Regions from separate parts of the Homo sapiens genome. Here regions 1, 2, 4, 5, 6 and 7 are each linked to region 3. Evidence: fine-mapped expression QTL. A gene starts in region 3. Each other region holds a variant in brackets. All regions are shown on one strand. Distances are from middle to middle.

Region 1 (4,000 bases), 27 kb after region 3:
GTTGATATTTTAATAATGAGCCTTCTAACTCATGAATATCATCTTATCTATTTGAGTCTTCTTGAATTTATCTCAGCAATATTTCATAGATCTTAGTATATGAGCCTCACATACTTTTTTCCATATTTATCTCTATATATTTTATGTATTTTGTTGCTATTGTATATGCTATTTTTAAAATTTCCATTTCTGATTGTTAGTTGCTAATATATAGAAATATATTTTATTTTTGTACATTGATCTTGAATTCTGCAACCTTGCTAAATCACAATTAGCTTTCTTATAGGCTTCATTGAATTATCTATATAAGTGATTACATTGTCTGCTATACAGTTATACTTTTTGCTCTCCAATATGGATATTTTAAAATTTTCTCCCTTATTTCATGGGCCAGAACCTCCAGTATAATGTTGACTAGAAATAATGAGAATGGACATCCTTTCCTCATCGCTGATCTTAGGGGGAAAGCATTCAATCTTTCTCCATTATGTATGATGTTAGCTATAGGTTTTTATCAGGTTGAGGAAGTTCTCCCTTCTGCACCTAGTTTGCTGACAGTTTTTAATCAAGAATAAATGCCAGGCTGGTCGTGGTGGCTCACACCTGTAATTCCAGCATTTTGGGAGGCTGACGTGCATGGGTCACCTGAGGTCAGGAGTTCAAGACCAGCTTGGCCAACATGGTGAAACTGTCTCTACTAAAAATAAAAAAATTAGCTGGGCATGGTGGCAGGCACCTGCAATCTCAGCTTCTCGTGAGGCTGAGGCAGGAGAATTGCTTGAACCTGGGAGGTGGAGGTTGTAGTGAGCCGAGATCGTGCCACTGGACTTTAGCCTGGGCGACAAGAGTAAAACTTCTTGTTGTTGTTGTTTTTTGTCAAAACACACACACACACACACACACACGAGAATAAATGCCAAATGCTTCTTGTGCATCTATTGAGATGATCATATGATTTTTTTTTTTTTCTTTTGAGATGAAGTCTCACTTCGTTGCCCAGGCTGGAGTGCCATGGCGCAATCCTGGCTCACTGCAACCTCTGCTTCCCAGGTTCAAGCGAATCTCCTACATCAGCCTCCTGAGTAGGTGGGATTACAGGCATGCACCACCATGCCAGGGTAATTTTGGTATGTTTCAGTAGAGATGGAGTTTCACCATGTTGGCCTGGCTGGTCTCGAACTCCTGACCTCAGGTGATCTGCTTGCCTTGGCCTCCCAAAGGTCTGGGATTACAAGCCTGAGCCACTGCACCCAGCCCTCGTTTAGTTTTCTCGTACAGTAAATTACATTGATTGATTCAAATGTCAAACCTTACATTCTTGGGATAAACCATACTTAGTTATAATGCATTTTACTTTTTAAAAAATTAATGGATTACATTTTTTTAAAATTATTTTTTAAATTGTGATAAATATACATAACATAAAATTTACAGTTTAACAATTTTTAAGTGTACAGTTCAGTGTTAGTAAGTGCATTCACAATGTTGTCTAACCATTATCACCACCCATCTCCAGAACTTTTTTTCCTTGCAAAACTGAAACTCTGAACCCATTAAACAATATCTCTCCATTCCCTACCCACCTCCCCAGCCCTGGGTAACCACCATTCTACTTTCTGTCTCTATGAGTTTACTCTATGTATCTCATATAATTGGAATCATACAGTTTTTGTCCTTTGTCTGGCTTATTTCACTTTGCATAGTGTCATCAAGGCTCATTCATGTTGTAGCATGTGCCAGAATTTCCTTCCTTTTTACCATTGAATAATATTCTATTGTATGTATATACCACATTTTATTTGTCTATTATTGGAAACGTGTTGCATTTACCTTTTGGCTATTGTGAATAATGGTACTATGTGTATTCTCCTTTTTATGTATTATTTGATTTAATTGGCTAAAATTTTGTTAAGAATTTTTACATATGTATTCATAAGGGGTATTGGTCTGTGTATATTTTTTCTTGTAATGCTTTTATCTTTTTTGGTGTTAGAACAATGCTGTACTCATAGAGTGAATTGGAAAGTTTTTCTTCTTGTTCAAATTTCTGAAAGTGTAAAGTTGTTGTGGAGAATTGGTATTATTTGTATTATTTCTTTCTTAAATGTTGGTAGACTGTCAATAAAGCCATCTGAGCCTGGAGTTTTCTTTGTGGGAAAGCTTTTAATGACACATTCAATTTTTTTAATAGACGTAGGGCTATAAAGGTTTTGTTTTTTTTGAGTGAGCTTTAGTGGTTTGTAGTCTTTCAAGAATTTGTCCACTTCATCTAAGTTAGGATCATCAACTACTATCTATGAGCTAAATCTGATTTGCTGCCTGTTTTGGTAAATAAAGTTTTGTTGGAATGTGGCCATACT[C/T]ATTTGTCTATATATTGTCTGTGGCTATTTTTGTGTTACAGTGGCAGAGTTGAATAGTTGGAAAAGAAATGGTATGGCCTGAAAAATATTAACTGGCCTTTTGCAGAAAGTTTACTAACTTCTGATCAACAGTTTCAACTTTATTGTCATAAAGTCGATCATAATATTCATTTGTTATTCTTTTTAATATCTGTAGAATCTGTAGTGATATAAATTTTCTCATTTCTGACATTTGTCATTTGACTAATTTCCACTTTCATCCTAATTATTTCCTTTCTTTTGCTTATATTAGGTTTCATTTGTGCTTCCTTTTTTAGTTTTTTTTTTTTTTTTTTCTTTTTGAAACAGAGTCTCGATCTGTCACCTAGGCTGGAGTGCAGTGGCATGGTCACGGCTCACTGCAGCCTTGACTTCCCAGGCTCAGGCAGTCCTCCCACCTTAGCCTCCTAAGTAGCTGGGATTACAGGTGTGTGCCACCAAACCTGGCTAATTGTTGTGTTTTTTGTAGAGATGGGGTCTCACTGTGTTGCCCAGGCTGGTCTTGAATTTCCGGGCTCAAGTGATCTACCTGCCTTGGCCTCCCAAAGTGCTGGGATTATAGGAGCGAGCCACCAGACCCTGTCCTTTTCTAGTTTCTTAAGGTGGAAGCTGGGGTCATTAGTTTGAGAACTTTCTTCGTTCCTAATATAGGTGTTTCGTGATATAAATTTCTCTTTAAGTACTGCTTTAGGGATGCTAAAATTTTGATATGTTGTGTTTTCACAGAGAATGGGATCAGGGAAGTTTTCAAAGGTTCTAGTAATCTCTTTCTTAAGCTGGGTGGTAGGTACATGGATACATTTGTTTATTTGTGCATTTATTCTTTATATCATACATATAAATATTCTTTTGAGTATATTCTGTATTTAACAAGGAACTTTTAAAAAATGTGAATGGGAGGTAATGATGTAATCATCTGGTGGGTAAACAACTCTTTGAGCGGTTATGTTGTGAAGTGAAGCAGTGAAAGGGGGTAGTAATTTTAAAATGATGTGAGATAAAAGGGGAGATTGTTTTCGTATTGTTTTGTTTTAAAGCAAGTTTTCTGATTTAAATAAGAGTCATAAACTTTATGAAACCATACAAGTAGCAGATATAAAAGTGATATCCTGATGTGAAATTTGATGTGTTTAACCAAAACTCTTGCTTTAGAATAATACCACTTAAATTTTTTCTTAGATAGCAGTTTGAGTTCTGCTGCAGTACAAAAAACAAATACTTCATTGAGTTCCAAGAATTCCCTATCAAAAACTAGACAAATGATCTTGGTCTAAAGAATTTTCATGTCAGATATTGTAATCAGTTACCTGTCAATATAAATTATAAATACCTCTTAAAAGTAGTCATAAGGCCGGGTGTGGTGGCTCACACCTGTAATCCCAGCATTTTGGGAGACGGAGGTGGGTGGATCACTTGAAGTCAGGAGTTCAAGACCAGCCTGGCCAACGTGGTGAAACCCCATCTCTATTAAAAATACAAAAATTAGCTGGGTGTGGTGGTGCACGCCTGTAATTCCAGCTACTTAGAAGGCTGAGGTAGGAGGATCACTTGAACCTGGAAGGCAGAGGTTGGAGTGAGTCAAGATCATGCCACTACAGTAC
Region 2 (4,000 bases), 120 kb after region 3:
ATTAGGATGCTAATGGAGGGAGGGGAGTGAGGAAGCCAGGGAGCTGCAGAGCCAGAGAAACACCCGGGGACTGGGGAGCCAGTGGCTAATTAAAGGCTCCATGTCAAAGAGGAATGCCAAGTAGGTAATTTCCATGCATTTGAATAATGGGGAAAATGGTTACCATTTCTCAAGTTTGCTTGTTGAAAAGAGAGAGGGGAAGAATGAAAGGAGAGGGGAGACTGTGGCTGCAGGGATCTCCACTTGCTGTTGAGGAAGCTGGGAAGGGGCAGAAGCAGACTTGCTCCAAGAACAGGGAGGGAGGGAGAACCGGAGGAGGCAATTTTCTGCCTTCTTCCCAGAAGGTCCTAGGAAGTTCCCTGAAACCTGGGCTAGGGGAGAGAGCAGCCATGCAGAGTGCAGTGATGCTAGGTCCCAGGAGAGTTAAGGAAAGCCCCCCTCATGGGTGCACCACACTTCACAGTTTACATAGCTCACGTACCTTCTTTGTCTCACTGCATTGCTATGACAGGCTGTGAGGTGAGCAGGGAAGGGATGGTGATCATGATGATGTTGATGATGATTCTGATTTTAGAGGTGAATCACTGAGCCCCAGAGAGCAGGAGTGAATTGCTCAAGGCCCCATTTGCTTATGTATTCATTCATTCATTTAACAAAGTTCTTTACTGGGAATGCCAGACTGAATATCAGGTCCAGTGCCATGTGAGAAAGGCCCAAGGATGATAAAGGCCCAAGGTTGATGAAGACCCAAGGATGAGTAAGACACGGTCCCTCCTGTCAGGAACTCGGATTCCACAGGGAGAGACGCAGGAGGTGAAGCCATACATCGCCAAGTGCTGTGGGTGCTGAGGTGGAGGGACCTAGCCTACCTGGGGCCATAGGGACTTCCTGGAGGGACTGCCTGCAAGCTGAGGTTTCAATCAGGAATTTGCCAAGTGACAGGGGAGGAGCACATGCCAGGCTGAGGGAATAACATATGTAGAGCTGGGGAGAGCCAGGAGGGCTTGTCTTGTTCAGGGAATATGAGAGGCCCATTGAAGAAGACAGGAGGGGTCATGGGCTGGGGCAGGGTTGAGGGCTGGGGCTGGAATCCTTGGTGGGAGAGGGATGAGACCACAGAGGCAGGCCCCAGACAGGCTATGGGTGAGCCTCGTGTGCTATACTAGGATGTATGGACTTGATCTTCAGGCCACAGGACCTAGAAGGTGGCTGAGGAGGAGCTAGTGGAATGGAGATCACCCCATGTCCAGGGCTGCTGCTGTCTCTCTGGAGCCGGCCATAAGAACCCAGCCTCCCACCCCACTTCTCCTGCCCCCAACCTCCCCATCCCAGTCCCTTGAGCTTCTTGAAGTCATGGACTCCCAAGAAGAGGAAGCCAAGCTGTGGGAAGGAGGGTCCCTACTGCTCTGGCCTATTCTCCCTTTTTATTTTCTGTGTTTCTGATGCTTTGTGGTCTGGGGCCTGGCTGACCTTGGAGAGACTGCCTCTCCCATTGCCAGCCAATTCCTAGAGGGTGCATTTCCTATGCAAACCAACTCATAGAGAGTCCCTACCCCAACCACCTTCTTTATCATGCTCTTATGCTGATATTCCTCTGCCCTAATCACCCCAACTAGAGATGGCCCCTACATCTCAGAACTCGCTGAAATAATGCAAACCAGCCAATCCTGAGCCTGCTTACCCTGCCTCACCCACCCTTCCTGTAAAGACCACAATAAAGGCATTTGCCCATGTTTTCATCTTGCTCCCTCTGCCTGCCGAACAGCCCTGGCTTCCCATGTGGCCCCTGCATGGCTTGGCATACCCCCTCCCCTTGGGAACGGTAACAAACCATCTTTTCAATGGTAGCCACTCCTAATCTGTTAGCCTCACCACACCTGAAAAATAATGAAATGCACATTTTAAAACACCACCTTGCATCAGTTGCCTATTGATGCATAACAGATTACCCCAGAACTAAGTGGCTTAAAAAACAACAAATACTTATTGTCTCTCATAGTTTCTTTGGGTTAGAAATTTGGGAACAGCCTAGCTTGGGGTTTCTTCTGAAGTTACAGTCAAGATGCTGGCCCAGGGCTGCAGTTGTCTGAGGGCTTGATTTAGGCTGGAGAATCT[G/A]CCCTAAGATATTCATTCCATTGCAAGATGGCTCACTCAATGCCTGGCAAGGTGGTGCTATGGTCAGAAGACCTCAGTCCTTCACCACTTGGACCTCTCTACAGCTGCTTGAGTGTCCTCACAACATGGCGGCTGGCTTTCCCGAGCCAGTAAGAGAGAACAAGGTGGAAGTGCAATGATCTGGCCTTGGATGTCACCCACTGTCATTTTGCGATAACCCCTTGGTTACACATTGTGGGAGAGAACCACACAAGGGCATGAATATCAGGAGATGAGGATCAGCCAGGCTGTCTTGGAGGCTGGACACCACACCCCTCCTTCCAAGGAAGAGCAGACAGAAGTCCTCCTCACCTCCCGTAGCAGGACGGTGAGATAAAGTTGTCTCCTTGGAGAAGGAGGGCAGGGCTTCCTAGGTCACTGGGACAGGGCAGGTCTCAAATGGCTGTGCCACTAACCGGCTGTGTGCCCATGCTCTTCAGGCCTCTGTTTGCCATCTCTGTGCTGTGGGAAGAACTTGTTCTGCTCTGTGGGGCTAGGAGAGGGATGGAGGATCCAGTTTCTAAGGGGGTGGTCCTGAGAATTGCAGAACATAGAGTCTTCCCCCTTTTCATTCTTAATCTTGTTTCTTCACATAGTCAGATAATCAGTTTCCCTGGAAGTCTTTGCAGCAATAAATTTGCATAACCACCCAAATAAGCACCATTCTTTCCTTTAAGTTAACCTTGGCCTATATTTCCAATTAACTGTGCAATTAAACCAGGGTGAGGCTTTGCTTTCTTACCCCCATGACCATGTCTTTCCTGGATGGCTTGGAGCAGAGGCAGAGGCCTATATCAGCTCTGCTCACCTCCCCAACATTACCCCACACACTGCGTGGCCAATGCCCGGGGGTCAGTCTGGGCCAGCTCTCTTCTCTCCTTTTCAGCTTCCCTTGGTGGTGAGGGACTCAGGATGTTGGAGCAAAGAAGGACCTTAGGACCATCTCATGTAATCCTTACATTTTACAGATAAGGCTCAGAGAGGGCCAGCAAGGGGTCAAGGTCACACAGCAAGTTGGTGGCAGTAATACTGGGGCGAGAACCAGGTCTTCTGACTCCCCTGCAGGGCTCTTTTGTTCTCCCTGTTGGGTATGCCCAGGAGATGCCCAACTGTGGTTGTTCTAGATGGGTCTTGGGCCACTGTGACTTAGACACTCCCGTCTCCCGGCAAAAGGCAGGGTGGGTGCCAGGGTGTCAGGAGGGAGAGTGGAGAGGAAGGGAAGCTGTCAGTGTGGAATGGCCAGACCCCACACTTACCTGGTGGAGTGTGTGTATACGGAAGAGAGGAAGGTTAGGGGAGGGGGCATACATAAGAGAAGAGAAAACGTGGACCCAACCCTCTAAGCCTATTGTGCTCAGGGGAGGAATGACAGAGCAGGAAGTGCTCAGAAAGCTAGTGCAGAATGACCCAGCCTCCGTGGGCCTGGAGGCCTGAGAGACCCTTGAAGTTTGGCTGCAATCGGAGTAGTGCATGTGAAGAGGAGGGTGAGCTCCCAGCCCCCAGCCTCACTCTGCAGGACACAGAAACAGGCCACCCCAGGAAGGGACGAGGAGGCATGGAGCTACTGATTGGACCCTCAGCTTCTTCTCCCACCTTGCTAGGGATGGCCCTTGTGCTCACAGCAGGGTGGGAGGACCCTCCTTCTCTCTGGCCTGGGCCGATGATCAGCTGTATAGCCCTTGGTCAGTGAGGCCCAGGGAGGCTCTGATATCCTGCAGGGTGGCCTCCTCCACTCCTCTTCTAGGCTCTTCCACTGCCTACACTGCCCCATGGGGTGGCAGGAGTGAGCCCACTCCTGGCCAGTTTCACTTAGTAATTTCTAAGTCTTCAATTTTGGCCATTCCTC
Region 3 (4,000 bases):
ATCCCAGATTTATTGAAGGGGAAGGCCTCAGACACTTTAATTATTTTAATGCTTCATAGGTGACTCTCATGTGCAACCACATCTGACCATCATTGGTTTGGTCATGTTTGGCATATAGTTTTCTTATGTTTTTAAAATAAAGCACACTAAGAGAACTGATTAACCTACAATGACTTATGTGTTTATGAAGTGTTCTAAAAAACCATACAAAAACCAAAGAAACAAGAAAACAAACCTTTTCAACTTGATGTAGGGTTCAGAAGATACATACATTCCAAATACCACAGTAAGCATTCATCTGAAAGTTTGCCGGTTGGTCTTTCTATTAATTAAAAAAATTCAAAACAGAATACAGATTTAACTATGTACAATATTTACAACTTACAGATTTTACAACGAAATTATACAGTTAAGTCTGTCGTGGAAATGTTGGCATTTTGGTATATAACACTTCAGAAATTTCAAAAACAACTTTACCTCAAAAACATGTTACACAAATTTTCCAAAGTGCTGTAGCTCACTGGCTCATTTTATCTCAACAATCCAGTTTAGCAATCCAGGTACCCAAATCTTGAGGCATGAAGTAACCGCTATACTACTGAGAGACAGCACTTTTTATACAACAGCAGAGGCTGTTAGAAACCTTGGGTCTTTAAAACCCTATAACAATGCCCCTTTCACCCTCCAATCCTGAGACAACAAATCCTGTAGTTCCCCCTCATCATCGCTGTCAGCATTCTCTTCTTCCTTTTTCTGCAGTTCTTTTATGGTCAGGATTTCTTTAAGTTTATTTTTTATTTCATCCTGGCGATTCCGTAGCTTTTCCACCCGTCGGTAACACTCTATCTGCTCATCGATCTCCCCAATCTGGCGGTCCAACCGTCCCTCCTCATCCTCTTCGGCAACTATGGCTTCGGAAATAGTGTTGACCTGCCTCATGGCTTTTTGGAATTCGTCCCACTCTTTGTCCATCTGATCTTTTGGAGCATCAACCTTTCGTACTCTTGCATCTACCTCAGGGTCGTCAAAAAAACCTTCCGGTAACGCTTCCGCGGTGTTTTCTCTCCTTTCCACCACTTTTTCATGTATTTCTGCTTTCTCAATTGACCCTGAATGAGGAATTATGGGGGCCTTGGGAGGATTAGTACTAAAGAAATCGTTTGGCAGCACACTACTTGTTACCTCCCGTGAAGAGGAAACTGAGTGCTCCTTGCCCTGTGCGTCGGAGAGCGGCTTGCTGGCGTCCCCCCTTTTTCTTTCTCCATCTCCTTCCTCCTCCTCTTCCTCCTCCTCCTCATCTTCATAATCGGGGAGTAAACTGAGTCCTGAAGGCTTACTGGGAGTCGCTCTAATGAACTCCTTTCCTATTTTGTCAAAGTTGGTGGTCCACGCAGATGTGGAGGGCTGTACCTGAGGCACCAAGGTGGCCTTCGCTCTCTTGACATCTTGGTCGTCTGCGTCCGGCGCTTTCCTCTTGACGGAATGAGGCGCTGAACTGGCGGACGAACCCTGGCTGGCTTCCTTCGCGCCTTTCAGCTCGGCCACTTTCTCTCGGTGCTGCTTTCCCAGGACGTGAGTCTGCCACAGGAGCTCGCTCTTAACCGGAGTGTTACACAGGGCACAACTCAGCTGCCCCAAACGGTTGTACTTCGCGAATGGAGATTCTATCCGTTTCCGACTGGTGCTCAGACGCTGCTTCTCCTTCATTAACCGCCGCAATTCTTCCTGATTTATCACTCGCTTCCCTGCCGGAGTCCGGGCGGAGGCGGAGGACGCCATCTTGGCGACCAGACCCAAAACGATTCTGGTTTCCGTCGGGCGAGGCATGATAACGTCACTTCCTGTAAGGGCGATGATTGGCCGAGGCTCAAGAGAGCGTGGCGTCGCATTGCCGTTTTTGCTCAGAATCGCGACTAAGGCTTTTTTTTTTTCTCCCTCTGAACGGTTAGGCTATGGCTGCGATAAAGGCCGTCAACTCCAAGGCTGAGGTGGCGCGGGCCCGGGCAGCTTTGGCTGTCAATATATGCGCCGCCCGAGGGCTGCAGGATGTGCTGCGGACCAACTTGGGTCCTAAAGGCACCATGAAAATGTGAGACAGCGGTTGGAGCGGCCATTACGCGGCTAGGGGCCCGTTGGTGTCCTGTCGCCCTCTGAGGCAGGCGTCCGCGTAGCGCTGTGGATGTTCTTGCGAGCTTGATTTCCCTCATTCTCATCCCTGCTCTGGGGGTATTTCTCGCCTGGTGCAGGTGGAGGAGAAAAGCCTCCCCTAGTAGAGGGCCCCGGGAGTGAAGCTGTGGCGCTTCCCCGACCCCCGACTTGTCGTCAAGGTTCATATGCAGTTAGAAAGTCAGTTAATTTAGTGTCTCATTGGAAACAAAGCATTTAACTCCTCTGCTCCTTAAGACTGTATACCCTTGGTCCATAAATTCAACAAGTAGTTTTGTTTTTTGTATGGCAATGTATTGTAGTGGAGAGGACACAGGCTTTGGAGCCAGGAAGGCATGGGGTCAAATCCAAGTTCTACTTGAATACCCCGTGTCTATGGTTGTTCAGATCTATTCATCTTTTCAGTATATATTAAGCACCCTTTTCTATAGACAAGAGTGAGGAAAAGAGACCAGTGAGGGCAAAAGGGTATAAGAGGAGAGACACATCCTCATAGTAATGAACAAAATAATATTAATGGTAAAATAAGTCACTTAGGTACCAGTTGTTGGGACACAGAAATGATCAAGATAACGGTTTCTGTTCTTAAGGAGATGTGGTAGAGACGGATGTGGTAGAGTAGGATGTGCTAATTATATATAGATGCATATAATTATGCTGAAGAAAGGGACTGATGGCAGAAGGAAAAGCATCTTAAGTAACATGTTTGATCAGTCTTGAAAGAAGAATAAGACTTCACTAGTTGGAAGAGGGAGTAAAGGCCTGGGCAAAGTAATTTCAGGAATAAGAAAGACCAATGGTGCAAATCCAACAGAAACGAAACAAAACATGGTATATTAAGGGAACCAGAAGATTTGCTTGTGGAAAAGTAGATGAGGCAGGGAAGATATTGGGAAAGGTCAAGTATGTCATTGCTGTGTTTGGATTTTAACTTGAAAATGATGGAAAACATAAAAATCATTGGAGGACTTTTGATCAGGGAACTGACTGAATCACGTTGCCTTTTAGAAAGAAAAATGTGTGGAGGGTATATTTAAGTTTGGAGATATCCGGATGCCATCCAAAGTAGAGATGATAACAGTGGAGATGGAGAGAAGGTGGCAGATTCAAGAGATATTTAGGTAGTAGAATTGATAGAACTTGGTGATCTAATAAATGCAGGGATGAGGGAAACTAAGTTGAGTGACTGAATGAATGAAAACATTCACCAAAATTAAAACCTGCAGGAAATTTGCGAATTTGTGCTTTGTAGACTTCCAAGTATTCTTTGACCAAACCACAGTTCGTAACTCATCAAGTGCTTTTATCTTTAAACCTGTAAATAGTCCATTTGGAATGAAATCTCCATAATCTGTCCATCTGGGGAGAAATGATTCTGTGAGCTGCAAATGGTGGTAATTACCATGGCATATTCCCATGGTACAGTGGAAGTTTTCCGAGCCCAGTTCCCTCTATTAAGGATAATGGAGTGGCAAGCACTGGGAATGTCTTCCTACCACATGAAGTTAATATCATTCTTCTCTGAACAGGCTTGTTTCTGGTGCAGGTGACATCAAACTCACCAAAGATGGCAATGTGCTGCTCGATGAGATGGTGAGCTGATGCTGCTGACTTTAATAAACCTTAATAAGCCTTAATTAGAAGCATAGTAGAACTTGTGTATCTTTAAGCCAAGGCTGTGAGCTAAATACTGCAGTCTTGAGATATGCTGAAGACTGTTGAATTAGACCTCAATAAAAAAATTTTTTTGGCCGGGTGTGGTAGCTCACTCCTGTAATCCCAACACTTTGGGAGGCTGAGGTGGCCAAATTGCTTGAGCCCAGGAGTTCAAGAC
Region 4 (4,000 bases), 33 kb after region 3:
AAGCCAGTGTCTGATGTTTCTGAGGAAGGAGGTGAGAGAGGTGACAGAAGGTCAGATCATGCAGGGGCATTTGGACCAGTCTCAGGACTTTGGCTTTTACTTTAGAGGAGCAGGGAGCAATTTTGAGCAGAGGTGTGACATGGCCTAATTAATTAATTTATGAGACAGTCTCGTTCTATCACCCATGCTGTGGAGTGCAGTGGCACGATCTTGGCTCACTGCAACCTCTGCCTCCCAGGTTCAAGCAATTCTCCTGCCTCAGCCTCCGGAGTAGCTGGGAATATAGGTGTCTGCTGCCACGCCCGGCTAATTTTTGTATTTTTAGTAGAGACAGGGTTTCACCATGTTGGCCAGGCATGTGGCCTAATTATGTTTAAGAGAATCACTCTGGCCACTCTCCACTTTGTAGAGAAGTCAACTGAACAAGTAGAAGGTTGGAGTTGCAATCAACTGTGGTGGAGAATACTGGCTGGAGCAGGTTGTGGGTGAGAGGACATCAGCATTCAGTTTTGGCAGAGTCAAAGTTGAAGCATCTGTAATCTTTTAATTAAAAAAGTTGGATATATGGGTCTGGAGTTCAAGGAAGAGGTCTGGGTTGGAGATTAAAACCTGAGAGTCAGGCCAGGCGCAGTGGCTCACGCCTGTAATCCCAGCACTCTGGGAGGCCAAGGTAGGTGAATCACTAAAGGTCAAGGGTTCAAGACCAGCCTGGCCAACATGGTGAAACCCCATCTCTACTAAAAATGCAAAAATTAGCCGGGGATGGTGGCAGGCCCCTATAATCCCAGCTACTTGGGAGGCTGAGTCAGGAGAATTGCTTGAACCCAGGAGGTGGAGGTTGCAGGGAGCCGAGATGGCACCACTGCACTCCAGCCTGAGTGACAGAGCAAGATCTCTGTCTCAAAAACAAAAACAAAAAACACCAAAAAAAAAAAAAAAAAGAAAGAAAACAAAAAACAAAAACACCCAAAAAACCTTGAGAGTCATCAGATGTGTATGGTTTAAATCTAAAAGTCTGGATGAGATCACCTAGGGATTAAGGGTAGAGAGAAAAGAGGCTGGGACTGAACTTTTGGGTACTCCAACGTTAAGAGGTCAGGGAGGAAGAGGAAGAAGCAGCAAAGTAATCAGAAAAGGAGCCACTAATGCAAAAGAAAGAAAACCAGAAGAGTGTGGTATCCTGGAAGATAACATAGAGTAGGCGGCAGAATGTGATCAACTGTGTTAAATACTGGTAGATGAGGTCTGAGAATCAACCATTGGATTTAACAATATGGAGGTCATTGATGACCTTGACAAAAGTAGTTTTGGTAATGTATTAAATATTTTTAGAAGATATCAATTAATATTAATAGCAAATACTAAGATTTTGGTATGAAAATTGTTTTTACTTTTCAGGTGAGCCAATGGTAGCAGCAGATGCAGGAGTTTGGGATAATTATTGTGTAAAAAAACAACTTCTTCACTCTTGGTAAGTTCATATGAACATAAAGTGAAAGACCTGTAGAGTTATAATTGATAATATTAAGATGAAATTTTTTCTATTATTTTTGTCCCTGTACAGTGGAAAAATTGTCAAGTGTATGAAAGGTGTGGTATTCAGTTATTAGAACTAGCTTCTGTCATTTTATAGTCCATAGTCCCTTTTATATTTTAGATCTAGCAGTGTTAAGTTCTAAGAAAAATTAACCTTACTATTTGAGGGGGAAAGAAAAGGGGAAATTTACTGAAATAATAGCACATGCATGATGGAGAAAATCAAATGATATTGTAAAAATAAGCTCAATTTTGCTGAAATATAAATCAGGAATGCACTTTATCAGCAAAGGAGTTTAAATTATAATACAAAGGGTGACATTTGGGCCAGTGCGGTGGCTCACACCCGTAATCCCAGCACTTTGGGAGGCCGAGGCGGGTGAATCACCTAAGGTCAGGAGTTCGAGACCAGCCTGGCAAACATGGTGAAACCCTGTCTCTACTAAAAATACAAAAATTAGCCAGGCGTGTTGGTGGGTGCCTGTTATCCCAGCTACTCGGGAGGCTGAGGCGGGAGAATTGCTTGAACCTGGGAGGCAGAAGTTGCAGTAAGCTGAGGTCTTGCCATTGCACTTCAGCCTGGGCAACAAGAGTGAAACTCCATCTTGGGAAAAAAAAAAAAGGTGACATTTGTATTTGTATTTATAATAGCCTTGTCTCATAAAACATCATACTAACATCATTAAAGAACAAAGTACCCTACATAGGTAAAGATTGCTGGGGAAAAAAGCTAAGAGTGGGTTAGTAGGCTTTACTCACCCTCTCATCTTTTTCCTTAGCACAGTGATTGCCACCAACATTCTCCTGGTTGATGAAATTATGCGAGCTGGGATGTCTTCTCTCAAAT[G/T]ATGATTGAATTCAAAATCAACCCTTCTAGAAGATGAAATTTAGTACACTTTACATCTGACTACTATTGTGTAGCCTGAGCCATTCTGAATTTCTACACAATAAATGCAGTTTATGTCTTTTGGGTCTTAATAGTCTCAAAAATATTTCATCAAGGTATAAAGAACACAATAAATACTTTTACAGTAAAGGAATAATATTTAAATATTTCCCCAAGAGTCCTAACTCCCCACTCTTTGTTATATGCTATTGCAGTTTTTATAGCATAGGATCTTTATGATACTTAGACCTTTTGACAAGTTTTAATTAACAAAATAGAGGTTTTAGTACACCCAAGTAAATTTCCAATTTATCAGAGGGTATAAATATAGTAGGACAGAATGTTTCATTTTCTCTCAAAATTCTTTCAGTGACTTTTTGCTGCCACTCTTTCCTCTTATAAATATGGCGTGTAGCTTTGGGTTGCATTGTTTATAATATCTGACTCAATTTATTTTGTATATCATTTATTATATTTTATCTGGCTGTTTTTGTATGTATGATCAACAATTTATGCCACTGTGCTAGCTCTGGTAGCTCTCTGTCTAGATGGTGAGATAGAACAGGTCTCATCTGGAAAGAGAATTATTGACACCAATGGTGGGAAATAATTATTTTTGGCTTATAATACAACTGTTCAGTATAGATATTATAGCAATATCTTTCTTGTTTGAAACTCTAGAATTAATCTATTATGCTTTTTATTTTTATTAGAGTTCTTGTGGTTAACTTCTTTCCGTGGATGGTAGTTGATAAGAGACTAAAATATGGCAGGTGCATTAATGGAACTTTGGCCTGTTTGTGCATATAGGAGAAGGTTCCTTTAACCCTATAATTTTATAGCCTGTTTTTTCCACTTAATATGCTGTCAGCATCTTTCTAAGGCAGTATCCAGACTTCTTCTTCTTCTTTTTTTTTTTTTTTTTTTTTTTGAGATGGAGTCTCACTCTTCACCCAGGCTGGAGTGCAGTCATGATCTCGGCTCATTGCAACCTTTGCCTCCCAGGCTCAAGTGACTCTCCTGCCTTATCCTCCTTAGTAGCTGAGATTACAGGTGCACACCACCACGCCTGACTAATTTTTGTATTTTTAGTTGAGAAGGGGTTTCACTATGTTGACTAGGCAGATCTCAATCTCCTGACTTTCGGTGATCTGCCTGCCTTGGCCTCCCAAAGTACTCAGGTTACAGGCATGAGCCAGCACACCTGGCCTAGTATTCAGACTTCTGAACCATCACTTATTTATGGTTACATAGCATTGCATTGTATGGTTATACCACAATTTATTTTACTAATTCTGTTTTCAATTTTTTTTTTGCTGTTATAAAGAAAGATCTCCTTTTTAAACTTGTCTTTATTCTATAGGATAGGCCTTTTAAAATGGGCTTACCATGCATATGGCCAGATCTTTTCTGTGTAACATTGTTTAAATTTTGAAATATTTAAAATATACCAAAAAGACAGAAAGTAATATAATAAACACATTTGTACCCTCCACCTAGCTTTAACAAATAGTAACATTTTGCCATATTTGTTTCAGATTTTCTTTTCTTTTCTTTTTCTTTTTTTTTTTTTTTTGA
Region 5 (4,000 bases), 47 kb after region 3:
GTGTGTGCTTTCCTGTTTCCCCCTTTGGCATTCTTTCAATCTCTGCCCCAGAACTGTGACTGATGAGATGTGCAGTTTGGGGGGCCTAATGTTGCCAAAAGGCCACAAGGCCTATAAAGCCATTTTTCCTACAGTTCAGGAAAAATATTTCTGCCTAAGCACTGCGTGACATGAAGTGAGATCCCTTTTCTGTTGCTTTATTATTATCACATTAAACTTTCTAGAGATGCAGGCTTAACCTTACACCCATATGGGGGTAAGCTAAGGGACTATAGTTTGAAGGTACCAAGAATGTCCCGACATTCAAACTTCCTACCTCCTGTGGCTAAAATTCCAACATTAGTATTTCTTTTGGTCTGGGTTTTTGTTTTAAAAGCAAGTATGTAGAAAAGAGTTATAGCAGGCCCAGGTTTTATCCTTTGAAAGGCCTGCTTTCAAGGTTGGTCCTTGGTTGATATCTGGGAATTTGGATTTGGGAGTGTTCTCACTACCCTATGTTCAGACTGTCAGTATTATTTATACTGAATACCTGCTTTCCTTTTGGAAGTCTGGAATTTTGGGTACATTTGGGTATGTAGGCATGTAGTTCCTATATAATCAGCTTCTAAAAAAGATCCTGGACTCTGGGTTTCTAATGTGCTTTCCTGGTTGGCAACATTTTACACATTGTCAATTTGTTGCTGGAAAAATTAAGAACATCTTGCCTGACTCCACGAGAGAGGACCTTGGAAATTTGCACTTAACTTTCCTCTGGACTCATCCCATGTGCCAGATGGGATAATTTGCTGATTTTGCTTTGTATCATTTCTCTGTAATAAACTATGGCCATAAGTATAACTACATGCTGAGTTCTGATCCACTGAACCCAGAAGTGGTCTTGTGGGCTTCTGACACAGCAAGTATTCCTGATATCAAAGAAAAGAACACTACAGAACAATATGTGAACAAAATTCTTTAATGAAATATGAGCAAACTAAATCCAGCATCATATAAAAAAGATTATATAATATGACCAAGTGGGATTTATCCCAGGGATGCAAGGTTGGTTTAATATCCAAAAATCAATTAATATAATATACCAAATTAGTAGAATAAAGGATAAAACTACACAATTATCTCAATATACACACAAAAATTCTTTACAAAATCTATGATAAAAACTCAAACTTAGAATAAAGGAAACTTCCTTAACCTGATAAAAGGCATCTACAAAAAACCTACAGAAAACATCATAGTTCAGGGTGAAAGCCTGAATGCATTCTACCTAAGATCAGGAACAAAGGAAGGCTGCCCACTCTTACTTCTTCAACATAGTACTAGAGGTTTTAGCTAGTGCCATTAGGCAAGAATGGGAAATTATTTTCAGACAACATGATCCAGTGTCTAGAAAATTCTAAGGAATTCATAAATATAAGTATTCCTGAGAAAAGAGCATGTTGTCAAGTTTGCATGAGAGTGAGTTTATAGCATTTTCTATGGGATCCCTGAAAGAGTCTGGCAACTTGGAATTTGGAGGCAGAGGAGATGTTAACTGGGAAATTAAAAATCTCCCTTCTGTCTGGTATATGGTTAACTTACCTACTAGAGTGCATAGGTAAGGTGTAAGACAGTCTGCTCTGATGT[G/A]CATCTCTGAGACAAGAGCAGGGGATGTAAAGGTTTTCAGCTGTTCTAAACTCTACTGTAGTGTTTGTGCCTTCTCATGAGTTAAAGAGAGTGAATTTTCCCAAGGGCTGTTACCAGAAGGATTGGAGGAGTATAGCTTTTGGAACCAGAAAGATTCAAGTTTGAATCACACTTCTTAACTGTTGGATTTTGGGCAACCTGTCAGCCTGTTTCCAAATGGGAATGATGGTAAAGCTACTGTATAAGTCAAGACATGCATTGGGCTGCCTGAAGTTGAGATCAGGAATGATATTAACTTAAGCAACACAGAAGTTCATTTTTCTCGGGGCCGGCATGGTGACTCATGCGTGTAATCCCAGCACTTTGGGAGGCCAAGGTGGGCAGATCCCTTGAGGTCAGGAGTTCGAGACCAGCCTGGCCAACTTGGTGAAACCCTGTCTCTGGGTAATAAAAAATTACCCAGGCATGGTGATGTGTGCCTGTAATCCCTGCTCCTCAGGAGGCTGAGGCACAAGAATTGCTTGAACCTGGGAGGCAGAGGTTGCAGTGAGCTGAGATCATGCCACTGCACTCCAGCCTGGGGTGACCAGAACAAGACTCTTCTCGAAAAAAAAAAAAGGTTATTTTTCTCTCATGTTCAGAGACAGGGAAATCAGGATTTATGTATAGTGGTTTCTCACTATTATTTGAGGCCCAGGCTTCTAATTGTTTTGTTCCACTCTTCCGGGCACATAATTTTCATCCTCAGAGTTGCCTTAATGATCTGCAATGTCTGTTGGACCTTCAGCCATTATAACAGAATAGAAAGGGCCCACCTCAGCAGTCTCACTTCCTTTTTTTTTTTTTTTTTTTGCAGGGGGACAGAATCTTGCTCTGTCACCCAGGCTGGAGTGCAGTGGCGTGATCTTGGCTCACTGAAACCTCCACCTCCTGGGTTCAAAGCAATTCGCCTCAGCCTCCTGAGTACCTGAGATTACAAGTGCACTCCACCACGCCCGGGTAATTTTTGTATTTTTAGAAGAGACAGGGTTTCACCTTGTTGGTCAGGCTGGTCTGGAACTCCTGACCTCAGGTGATCCTGCCCACCTAGGCCTCCCAAAGTGCTGGGATTACAGGCGTAAGCCACCACACCCGGCCTTCACTTCCTTTTAAGAAGCTTTTCTAGAAGTCTCACACAATGACTTCCTCTGACATTTCATTATCCAGAACTTAGCCCTATGGCTACACCTAATTGCAACAGAGGCTTTAAAATGTAGTCTTTAGTTAGGCTCATTGGCAAAAAAACCAGGGTTCTCATGCTGAGAAGGTAGGAAGAAGGACGCCAGACAGGTAAAGCAGCCTCAGCCTCATCTACCCTGCTGAGCTAATGGAAGGGGTCAGTGATGGAATGCAAGAAAAATGCCAAGCACACAGTAGGATCTCATGAATGCTCCCTTGCCCCTACCCACCTCACCCCTGCTCATGTGCTTCAGCCAAGAGTAAGATGACTGTTCCTTATGGGTCTGTGTGTAGGGTGCAAGTGAGAGGGGCACCACCAAGGGATCCTTCCAAGGGCAGTGTCTTTCCCATGTTCAAATACTTTTAGCTCACTGCCTGCCACTAAACAGGTACCTATAAGTGCCTTTTGAATGAATAAAAGAGCATGGGAAGGAGAGACAGACAAACCTTGTATTTGAATCTTGTCTTTGCCATCCCTAGTAAGGTTACTTAACTTCTTGAATCTCAATGTCCTCATCTATAAATTGATGATGATAATACCTACTCTACAGAGTCGTTGAAAGGATCAGATAGAAAGGCACTGTGTCAACTTCCCAAGCACCAAATGGATAGCATCACCATTGAATTTTATGGGGAGAAAATAGGCTGGGCGCAGTGGCTCACCCCTGTATCCCAGCACTTTGGGAGGCTGAGGCAGGTGGATCACCTGAGGTCAGGAGTTTGAGACCAACCTGGCCAACATGGTGAAACCCATCTCTACTAAAAATATAAAAATGAGCCAGATGAGGTGGCGTGCCCCTGTAATCCCAGCTACTTGAGAGGCTTAGGCAGGAGAATCGCTTGAACCTGGGAGGCAGAAGTTGCGGTGAGCTGAGGTGGCACCATTGGCACTCCATCCAGCATAGGCAACACAGTGAGATTCTGTCTCAAAAAAAAAAAAAAAAAAAAAAAAGAAAGAAAGAAAAAGAAAAAAAGGAAAGAAAATAGTATGAAAGGCAACATTTGTCCCCTGAGCCTTCTCACCTACCCCTTGCTCTATCTGCTTCTCTTCAAGCCATCTTTGTCCAGGCTCCTGTCCTGTGCATCCTAATAATTAGGAACACAGACTCTGAAGCCAGCCTACCTGGTTCAAATCCCAGCTCTGCCACTTAACTGGTTG
Region 6 (4,000 bases), 83 kb after region 3:
CATTAAGTCCACCCATTGCTATTCTTCCAAGTGTCAATTCCCTTCCATTTTTGCCTGCTTTTTGTTTCACCAGTGCCTTTAAGTAGCTTTAAAATATCTTTTCCAGAGTTTATAGTTGTTATCTGAGGGAGGACAGATCTGATGGTAGCCATTTGATCATTATTGAAAGCCTTGTTTCATTTTTGAGCAGGTGATTCCTCCAATGGCTCTTACCAGGCAGGGTTTGTTTTAAAGCTACGTCAGGCTTAGCAGAGTCTCTAGGAATCTGGTCTTCAACTCCTAGCAGTAGATACTTATACCATGACAATGATGTGTTGTACCTGGCTCTTGGAAGCGTTTGCAACCATGTGTATGCCAACCTTCTGGGTGGTGTTACCTTCTGTGTTCCCTTTACTATCACCTTCCTTGGGAAGGAGAACTCTAGGCTACAAGGGGCATCCAGCCTCAGGTCCCTCTCCCAGGTGCCCTCTTGCATGGAGTTGGAGGGGTGGGCTTTGTCCCTTCCTAAAGCACACTCTTGGCAAAGTCTTGATTGGGAGAAGAAGAGGTGTCAGAAGGGAGAGAGAGGCAAACTTCCCAACTTGGCAATGTCATCCAAGTGTATGTCTCTTTAAACTCTGCCTTAGGGGGCTTGTCAGATGGCCACCACCTGTTCAGCTTCCCCCAGACACTTCTGGGGCTCCAGATGTGTGCCAAGAGCTGGGAAAAATTGGCTCTTCCACGAAATTCCTTTCCTCTTTCATTGGAGATATCAGAAAGGCTAGAGCATGATGGCAAAATCGCTGTGCTTTTAAAAATGTTCCTGCTTTGTAGAGGCGTTGTTTTCCTCCCCTGTTTCTTCTTTTAAAAATCTCCTGTGTGTCAGAGATGAAGCCAGAAGAGAAATGTCCCTTTGATGGCTGAGAATTATTGTTCTAAAAGCTTTATTTAAGCTGCTCTTAACAAAACTCAAACATCTGGCTTGTGGTGCCTGTGTGCCAGCTTTCAGCTTGAAGGGGAAGGCATAGAGATGGCAAGCTCTGAGGCTTGGGGGAGGAAGGCAGCGCCTGCTATGGCCAGCTCTGCTTCCGAGGCCACTGCCTGCACTGTGCCTCCTTGATGGGGTTCTGTGGCCGGGGGCAGAGGAAGAAAACCACTTTCTTGAGCTTGCCTTTATGATAGAGACATTTTGCTAGAGTAAATGTATCCAAGCCCATCCCTCAGGGCTTAAAATATGAGAGAGAATCAGAACTTGAGCCTAAGAGAAGCTGGGCTGTGCAGAAATGGAAGGAGGGTTGTATTTATCCAACACATATTCTATGCCAGATATTTTTATATCCATTGTCAGGCTCAATTACTGCAACAACTCCATGCAGCAGATATTAATATCCTTTCATTACAGATAAGAAAATTGAGGTTATAACTTGCTCAAGTTTACCTAGTTAGCAGGTAGCAGAGTCAGGACCCAACCTCAAGGCTGCTGCCCCCAGAGCCTGGGTTTCTTCCATTATGTCTGACCTCCTCTCACATGAGCCCTGAAACCTGGATTCTCAGGGCAACATGCTGTCTTCCTCTTCCAAAATGCACAGGGGATCTTTGGTTTGGAGAGGAAAGGGATGGGATCTGATGGCAAATGACTTCTCTGACAATGCAAAGGTAAACATGCACTGCTCCAGGCTGGAATTCTGACCTTGGCAACCAAGAGCTGGGTGATGTTGAGCAAGTTACTTAACTTCCCTGAACCTTAGATTTTTCAGGTGGGGATAAGACCACTCACTGGGGGGATCCCAGCAAGAAATGTGTGTAAAAGCCAATGGTTCTGTGCCCAGCCCAGAAGAGGTGCTTAGCAAGTGTTAGTCTTTCTCTTCCTCCTCTTCTACAGCTAAGAGAGGTTCAGGGCCCAGCCCCAGAACCAGGAGTCTAGATGCACAGACCTGGAGGAAATCGAGGGGGACTAGGCCAGGTACCTTGAGGGGCTCCAGCTGCCTCTGGTTTTTCGAGGTTGGTGTTCAACCCCATGA[G/A]GGGACTGAGTGAGCCTCAATGTGGGGCTGGTCCACGTGTGTCTCTCACCTGGTGGGCCCTGGATCCTGGAGGTCTCCCTTCTGGAGGTCCCTCAGAAACCACTGCATCCACCCTTCACATTTTACAGGCAGGAAGACGGAGGCCAGAATAGGAAAGAGACTTGGCCAAGGCTACATAGCAAATAGGAGGACGAGCTGGAGCTAGGCCTCAGCCTTTTAGCCTCTGAAGCCAGCGCTGGATAGCAGAGAGTGCATGTACTCTCTGTTCCCTGAAGGCACCAGGGCTGTGGTTTCCCCCAGAAACTGTGCCTCTCCTGAGGCCCAGCGGCCCTTACCTGAAGCCAGCAGGGGATGTGAAGAATGCCTGGAGTGACTCCCGCTCCTGCTGATGTGGCTCTGATCTGCCTGCAAGCATCTGTTCACCACTCTCTGATCATTACGTGGGTGGAATCTGCCCATTAGTACTTCACACCCAGGGTCTCAGCATTGCCAGGCAATTAGGATGCCCAAGATCTGAATCACTTGCTGCTGCTTCGGAATGTACTCAGGAAAGCTTTCTCCCTTTTTCTTGAGGCCCAGTGTTTCCAGCTGTGAACTGAAGGCAAGGGACCTGCCTTGGAGGATGACAGTGTTTGGAGAAACACTAAATGATGCTTTGGAGGCCTGAGACATTAAAACAGATAAATATAGGGCATCCCTATCATTTGATCTTTCTTCACATTTCCCTCAACAACTGCTCTTCCCTTTTCCTCCCTTTCTGTTTCCTCCTTTCCTTCCTGTCTCCCTTTCTCCTTTCTGATACTTGTTGAGCATCTGAGAGGCGTGATAGAGGCCTGGGAAGTGGCACTGGGCAGTGGAATCATAGGAGACAGGGCGAGTATGTTTGGAGAGTTTCTTGAGACTCCCAGGAACAGGCGGAGCCACAGGAGAGAATGGAGAGAAACTGCAGAAAAGATAAAGGTGGTCATCAGAGCAGCGCCAAACCTCAGGAGAAGCTGGAAGAAGGACATTTAAGAGGATATTAGGCCTTCAAGGAGCTGAGAATTAAGCTGAGCCTGCAGGGACCCAGCCAGGGACTGGGAATTCTACATCCTTTTCCAAAAAAACAGACACCTAGGTGGCTTTTGGTCCATGTTTACCGCAGGGGACTCATGTAGCAGTGCCTGCTGTAAGCCCTGCTGGCTGAGATCCTCTCTGGAGGTTGTAGGCTCTGAGCCTGGAGCAGAGGACCTGTCTTGTTGACCTTTGGCAGGGGCATTGCTGTGGTCTAGATCCCAAGATAGCCTATGCCAGTGGGGCTGCCCATGGGTTCCTCCAGCATCTGCTCTGCCCTTGGCACCCTGTTCCTGAGGAACTGCTTCTTCCAGAGGAATAGGATATCCTAAAGACAAGGCCTGTGTCATATTCACCTGGGGATCCCCAGACCCTAACCCACCATGACTGATCAAAGGCAAGGCAGAGGCATTGTGGAAGAACAGAAAGAGTAATGGTGTCCGAGTCAATCCCATTTGAATTAGAATCCCAGTTCCGCTGTGTTCAAGCTCTGTGACTGCCATAGGTCAGTTTCTCCTGCAAACAGATTCTGGAGAACTAAATTTGTGTGCAGAAGGTTTACAGGGGTGTGCACTCAGGAAAAATACCTGTAAGGGAGTGAGGGAAGCAGGATGGGGTGGAGGGAGAAGTTGAATCACTCTGCTGCTGTTGCAGCAGAGGCCTCAGCCAACCCCCTGGGGGAGTTCTGGGGCTAGAATAGCACTTGAACATTATCCCAGACTGAGGAAAAGGAGGCTGTACCTTTGTAACTCTTGTAGAACAGTCATTGGAGGTGGGCTTTCCAGGGAAGGGGCATATGCTTGGGTGAGGCAGCTTTTGACTGAAGGCAATGCCTGAAGAGGGACTCAGCTGTGAGCCCTCAGTTGTCAGCAGACCTGGCAGCTGGGAAAGTGAGAGCCTCAGCCCTTAGGGGGAGACCTTGGCAGCATACCACAGTATCCACCACA
Region 7 (4,000 bases), 160 kb after region 3:
AGGGTTGTGGTACTGACCTCCAGGATGTGGTATGCATTGAACCAATGGTTCATGCATGGTGCTGTGTCCCCCGAGAGCTAGAATATACATCTGGGAAACAAGGGTTGGAAGCAAGTTGGGTCCATCTATCATCACTTCCAATAACCTTCAAGAAGAAGATGTGCTTTCTGTCTCCCCAACTCTAGGCTCTGGTGGAGGCCAGGTTCCGGTTCTACAGGGAGACACAGTAGAGTTCTACTGTGACTGACCCTGAGTGATCCCTGGTCACTTTGAATCCTTCATGTCAGTGGACTAGCAAAAAGAAGGTCGGAGTAATTGACCACGATTTTCACAAAGAGCTGGGGTTGCTGCTACCTAACCAGGATGGGGAAGACTCTGTCTGGAACTCAGGGGGTTCACTGGCGCATCTCTTAATGTTTCCATACCTGATGATAATAGTGAATAGGTAATTGCAGCAAAAACAGCCTAATGGGACTGAGGCAACCAGGGGCTCACCCCCCTTACCTGTCTCATGGATGTTGGTCTGGGTACCTCACTGAGCAAGTGACCCAGGCTGGCAGAATCAGGTAGGCTGAGGGTAAAGGAAATATAGAGTAAGTGGTAAAGGGCATGGGGGATGGATATCTCTCAGGACCTGCTGTAGCTGTTGGAACTGTACCCTGACACATTAACCTTCCTGTCTGAAGAACGTTTTAGAAAATAGAGATTAAGGCCTGCCTTTTCTTGAAAATTCAGCAACAAGGTGAACTTATTTTGGGTCACAGGCAGATCTGAGCTCTACAAGGGGTGGACTGTAGCAGACACTTTGTGTGCCCCACACCACATTCCCTTCATTGATCTGATTTCAGTGCAACTGTGGTAGACAATTCTGGGCATGCTGCCAGCATCTTATCCCAAGCATGCAAAGTGGTATCTCTCTGCTTTTCAGACTCAGGGCTTTCTCAGAAGTCTGAGAAGGCTGCTCAGCCTGTACAAGCATAATGAAAGTGCAGGGAAATGAATACCACTGGGGCTAACCCTCAAACAATGGGGACAGGAGTCAGAGGATAATGTCCTATCCTCCTTCCTTAAGGGATAATTCTGTGGCATATTCAATGTGGTTATGCAGAGGGTCTGGAGTTTTCTACAGAAGTAACTCACTTAATCTATCTTTACTGATTTCTCTTTTTCCCTGTCTCACTCCCCATTTGACTCCCTCCCTCTGGTTTCTTGGGATTATCTCCCAAGTAAATTATCTGCCCCGAAGCCCTTGTTTCAGGCTCCTTTTTAAAGGGGAACCCAAACTAAGATACTTGTTTTCTTCTTTGAGCTTATATAATTCCTATTCAGATCTTCTTCTATGCCTCTTCCTCCCGAATTCTTCCCTGACCACTGGGCCTGGGAGAGAGACCCCTCTTTATTATGACTGTGCTCCCAGTGCCTAGTAGGGTGACAGGTGAATAAAATTCTCTCTGAAAATATTTGTTGAACAAATAGCTTTCCCAGTGGACTCTTCCCAGCAAGAGAGGAGTCACGGATGACAATTGTAAGTGTTGCCACCCTCCGACATGATGCCGCAATACCCGAATACGCCAATGCCAGCTCCCTGTGTGGGGACAGAAGTCCATTATCTGGTCTTATCAGACTCTAATACACCTCAGCGAGGGGCCTTGGTAACTAGGCTGGATAAGTGCTGCACAGACACCATCTCCCTCCCTCGTCTTCCTCTGCTCCCCCTCCCCGCCACATTAAGTGAGTAAGTAATGAGAATGGCTAGAAATTGAATTTTATGAAAAAGTAATCTGCGGCTTAGAGAACAAGCAGGAGGAAGGGGGAGAGATTTGATGAGATGGGGGAGATGATTTCAGGGCCATCAGGGAGAATGAAGGAACATGGGAGCCGACAGGAGAGTCAGGTAGGAGAGTCATTCAATTAGGGAAGCTGAGACGGTGGGGGGACTTGGTCCCCTTCTTCTGCTCTGTCCTTTTTTACCTCTATCCTTTTCATCTCATCTATGGGTATTTTGTCTTCATGCTCATGGGGTGGAGAGGAGGGAGACCAAGACAGAGATGGCAGCAGCAGGGAGCAGAAGACGTTCTGACCACGGAATACATTACTCTGCCTGCAGTTCAGAGAACACTGATGACTGGAATGAACAAGGAAGGAAGGCATGGGGCTGGAGGAGGTGCAGGGATAGATGAAGACACAGAGTGCTAGCATGGCCGCCACCTACCCCATCCCTCTCCACTAGTCCTGGGCCAGCCACAATGGGTGAGCCCTGCTGTTGGGCAAGTTGTGGTCAAAGTAGAGAGCAAGCGAGGCTAAATACTTGTTACAGGGAGGAGAGCATGTTTGTTGTGCATCCTATGATGTGTGAAGCCCTCCCTGAGTGTGTGTATGAATGAT[C/G]TTGTTATATACTGACAGCAACTTTGCAAGCATTCCCATTTGCAGGATGAGTAAAGTGAAGCCCATAGAGATTAGAAGAATTCCCAGGGACTCTCAGCTGGTGAGATAATCAGTCCACTCATAGAAGGCTGAGAGCTGCCTAGGATGTACCATGGGAATTGTGCCAAAGCCTGTACTGACCAATGTCCATGCTTGTGATCAGAAGATGGTCAATTCAGGGATTGATTGTGGGCAAGGCAGACCTGTGCCCTGGTGTATTCTTTTCTCACAGTCAGCCAGTCTTCATCACAAACCTCATCTTCCTCCCCAACAGTCCTCCTACCATTGTGTTTTCTCACAAACACTGTGTTCCCCCTCCTTGGACTACAAGCCTTCTGCTCACCCTCCACCCACCCCACTGCCATTTGCAAACAGCTAAGTGGAACTCAGCTTGAGCTTGATGCTTGGTGATGATGAGTTTCCCAGCAGGGGAAGGGTTTGCTTTGCAGAAACAAAAGACCAAAGCAGTAACATTAAATCTTCCTTCTTGTCCACACTCAGAGCTGCTGAGGAGGCCCAGACAGACTCTCTGGGAAAGCAGCAATGGGGTAGAGCCAGAGCAAACAGAAACCCCAGGGGGTTAAATGCCATCAATAGCAATGCCCAAGCAGGGCTGATGGGATAATGGAAGGGGGTATGTGTGTGGCCATTAACAGGCAGATAAACTAACAGAACCACAGGGGGAAGAAGCCACAGTGAGACTGGGCTTGACTGGAAAACTGAGGAGCTGGATTCTATCCCTGGGTCCATCACCTAATCATAGAATGATTTGATGCTTCAGAATAAAGTCGAATAAAGACTTCCTTTATTGGGGTGGGGGGGTGGGATTAGATTATTTTTAACTCCAGCTAAACTGGAATTTAACTAGCCAATGAAACTCTAAGTTATTCCATGAAAGGGACTATATTTTAGCATAGTTCCTGCATTCAGAAGGGGCTCACTAATTTATTCATCCAACAACTGTGTAACCAGGTCTGATGTTAGGTCCCGGATATAAAATGGTAAATGGAACTGGTCTGAACCCTGCCCCTGGAGTTCCTATTCTAATGCAGAAGGAGACATTAGTAATCACACAAATATCTATATATCATGACAGCCACAATCTGTGCTATGAAGGAATGAGATAGCATCTATGGAGATTTAATTTGAACTGCAGTTTTGATGCAGCCCTCCCTGAGGAAGTGAGGCTGAGGCTGAGATATTCAGAACGAGCAGGAACCCTGTGAAAAGTGGGATAAAACTTCCAGGGGGTGGTATCAGAAGCGCCTGAGATGGGGAAGGGCTTGGCAAGAGTGAGGAATGGACACAAAGCCCACGTGGTGCACAAGGAAAGGCGAGGAGGCTGGGGAGGTAGGTGGGACAGAAGCGGCTGGGCCCGGATAGAGCAGTGAGGATCCTGGGCGATGGGTGGAGCTGTCCTAGGTGCTGATCAGGAGAGCCCACTAAGCCACCAGCCAGACCTTGGGAACTGTGCGAGGGAATCTCAGCCTGGCTGTGGCTTCGAATTAAGTGGGTAATGGGTCCCTCTCCCTCAACCCCACAAACACCACTCTCCCCTTGGCCTTTGTGCAACGTG

Which allele goes with the higher level. Positions count from the first base shown, and alleles are read on the strand shown. Sizes are in standard deviations (SD) of each study's normalised expression. Not every link is listed here.
In carriers of allele A in region 5, the expression in vagina of the gene that starts at base 1,886 in region 3 tends to be lower than with G alone (small effect, 0.31 SD a copy in GTEx).

Evidence for each region. PIP is the estimated chance that this variant, and not a neighbour inherited with it, causes the effect.
Region 1: its variant is the best candidate, but not a certain one, in a credible set for the expression of CCT6B in left ventricle (GTEx, PIP 0.66).
Region 2: its variant is the best candidate, but not a certain one, in a credible set for the expression of CCT6B in whole blood (INTERVAL, PIP 0.90).
Region 4: its variant is the best candidate, but not a certain one, in a credible set for the expression of CCT6B in whole blood (TOPMed, PIP 0.86).
Region 5: its variant is the best candidate, but not a certain one, in a credible set for the expression of CCT6B in vagina (GTEx, PIP 0.71).
Region 6: its variant is the best candidate, but not a certain one, in a credible set for the expression of CCT6B in prefrontal cortex (GTEx, PIP 0.69).
Region 7: its variant is the best candidate, but not a certain one, in a credible set for the expression of CCT6B in blood mononuclear cells (TOPMed, PIP 0.67).

Annotation. Positions count from the first base shown.
Region 1 is chr17:34,932,830-34,936,829 of GRCh38, reverse strand. All of the region lies in intron 10 of CCT6B (chaperonin containing TCP1 subunit 6B), which reads left to right. Among named protein-coding and RNA genes, the nearest start is that of CCT6B, 27 kb to the left of the region's middle. The variant C/T (reference allele first, on the strand shown) is at 2,361.
Region 2 is chr17:34,841,580-34,845,579 of GRCh38, reverse strand. The region is part of intron 2 of LOC105371742 (a long non-coding RNA gene); the gene reads left to right. Among named protein-coding and RNA genes, the nearest start is that of CCT6B, 120 kb to the left of the region's middle. The variant G/A (reference allele first, on the strand shown) is at 2,116.
Region 3 is chr17:34,959,346-34,963,345 of GRCh38, reverse strand. CCT6B (chaperonin containing TCP1 subunit 6B) reads left to right here and starts at 1,886. Exons shown (of 14, transcript NM_006584.4): 1 at 1,886-2,089; 2 at 3,696-3,759. The coding sequence starts at 1,953. ZNF830 (zinc finger protein 830) reads right to left here and starts at 1,806. Exons shown (of 1, transcript NM_052857.4): 1 at 1-1,806. The coding sequence starts at 1,779. The coding sequence ends at 661. RefSeq lists enhancers at 1,513-1,762, 1,843-1,922, 1,973-2,192, 2,293-2,342 and a silencer at 2,062-2,356.
Region 4 is chr17:34,926,433-34,930,432 of GRCh38, reverse strand. It overlaps CCT6B (chaperonin containing TCP1 subunit 6B), which reads left to right. Exons shown (of 14, transcript NM_006584.4): 13 at 1,399-1,471; 14 at 2,316-2,572. The coding sequence ends at 2,385. Among named protein-coding and RNA genes, the nearest start is that of CCT6B, 33 kb to the left of the region's middle. The variant G/T (reference allele first, on the strand shown) is at 2,384.
Region 5 is chr17:34,912,240-34,916,239 of GRCh38, reverse strand. All of the region lies in intron 2 of LOC105371742 (a long non-coding RNA gene), which reads left to right. Among named protein-coding and RNA genes, the nearest start is that of CCT6B, 47 kb to the left of the region's middle. RefSeq lists an enhancer at 2,591-2,650. The variant G/A (reference allele first, on the strand shown) is at 1,624.
Region 6 is chr17:34,876,025-34,880,024 of GRCh38, reverse strand. The region is part of intron 2 of LOC105371742 (a long non-coding RNA gene); the gene reads left to right. Among named protein-coding and RNA genes, the nearest start is that of CCT6B, 83 kb to the left of the region's middle. The variant G/A (reference allele first, on the strand shown) is at 2,001.
Region 7 is chr17:34,797,730-34,801,729 of GRCh38, reverse strand. All of the region lies in intron 3 of LOC105371742 (a long non-coding RNA gene), which reads left to right. Among named protein-coding and RNA genes, the nearest start is that of CCT6B, 160 kb to the left of the region's middle. RefSeq lists an enhancer at 2,524-3,223 and a silencer at 3,733-3,933. The variant C/G (reference allele first, on the strand shown) is at 2,386.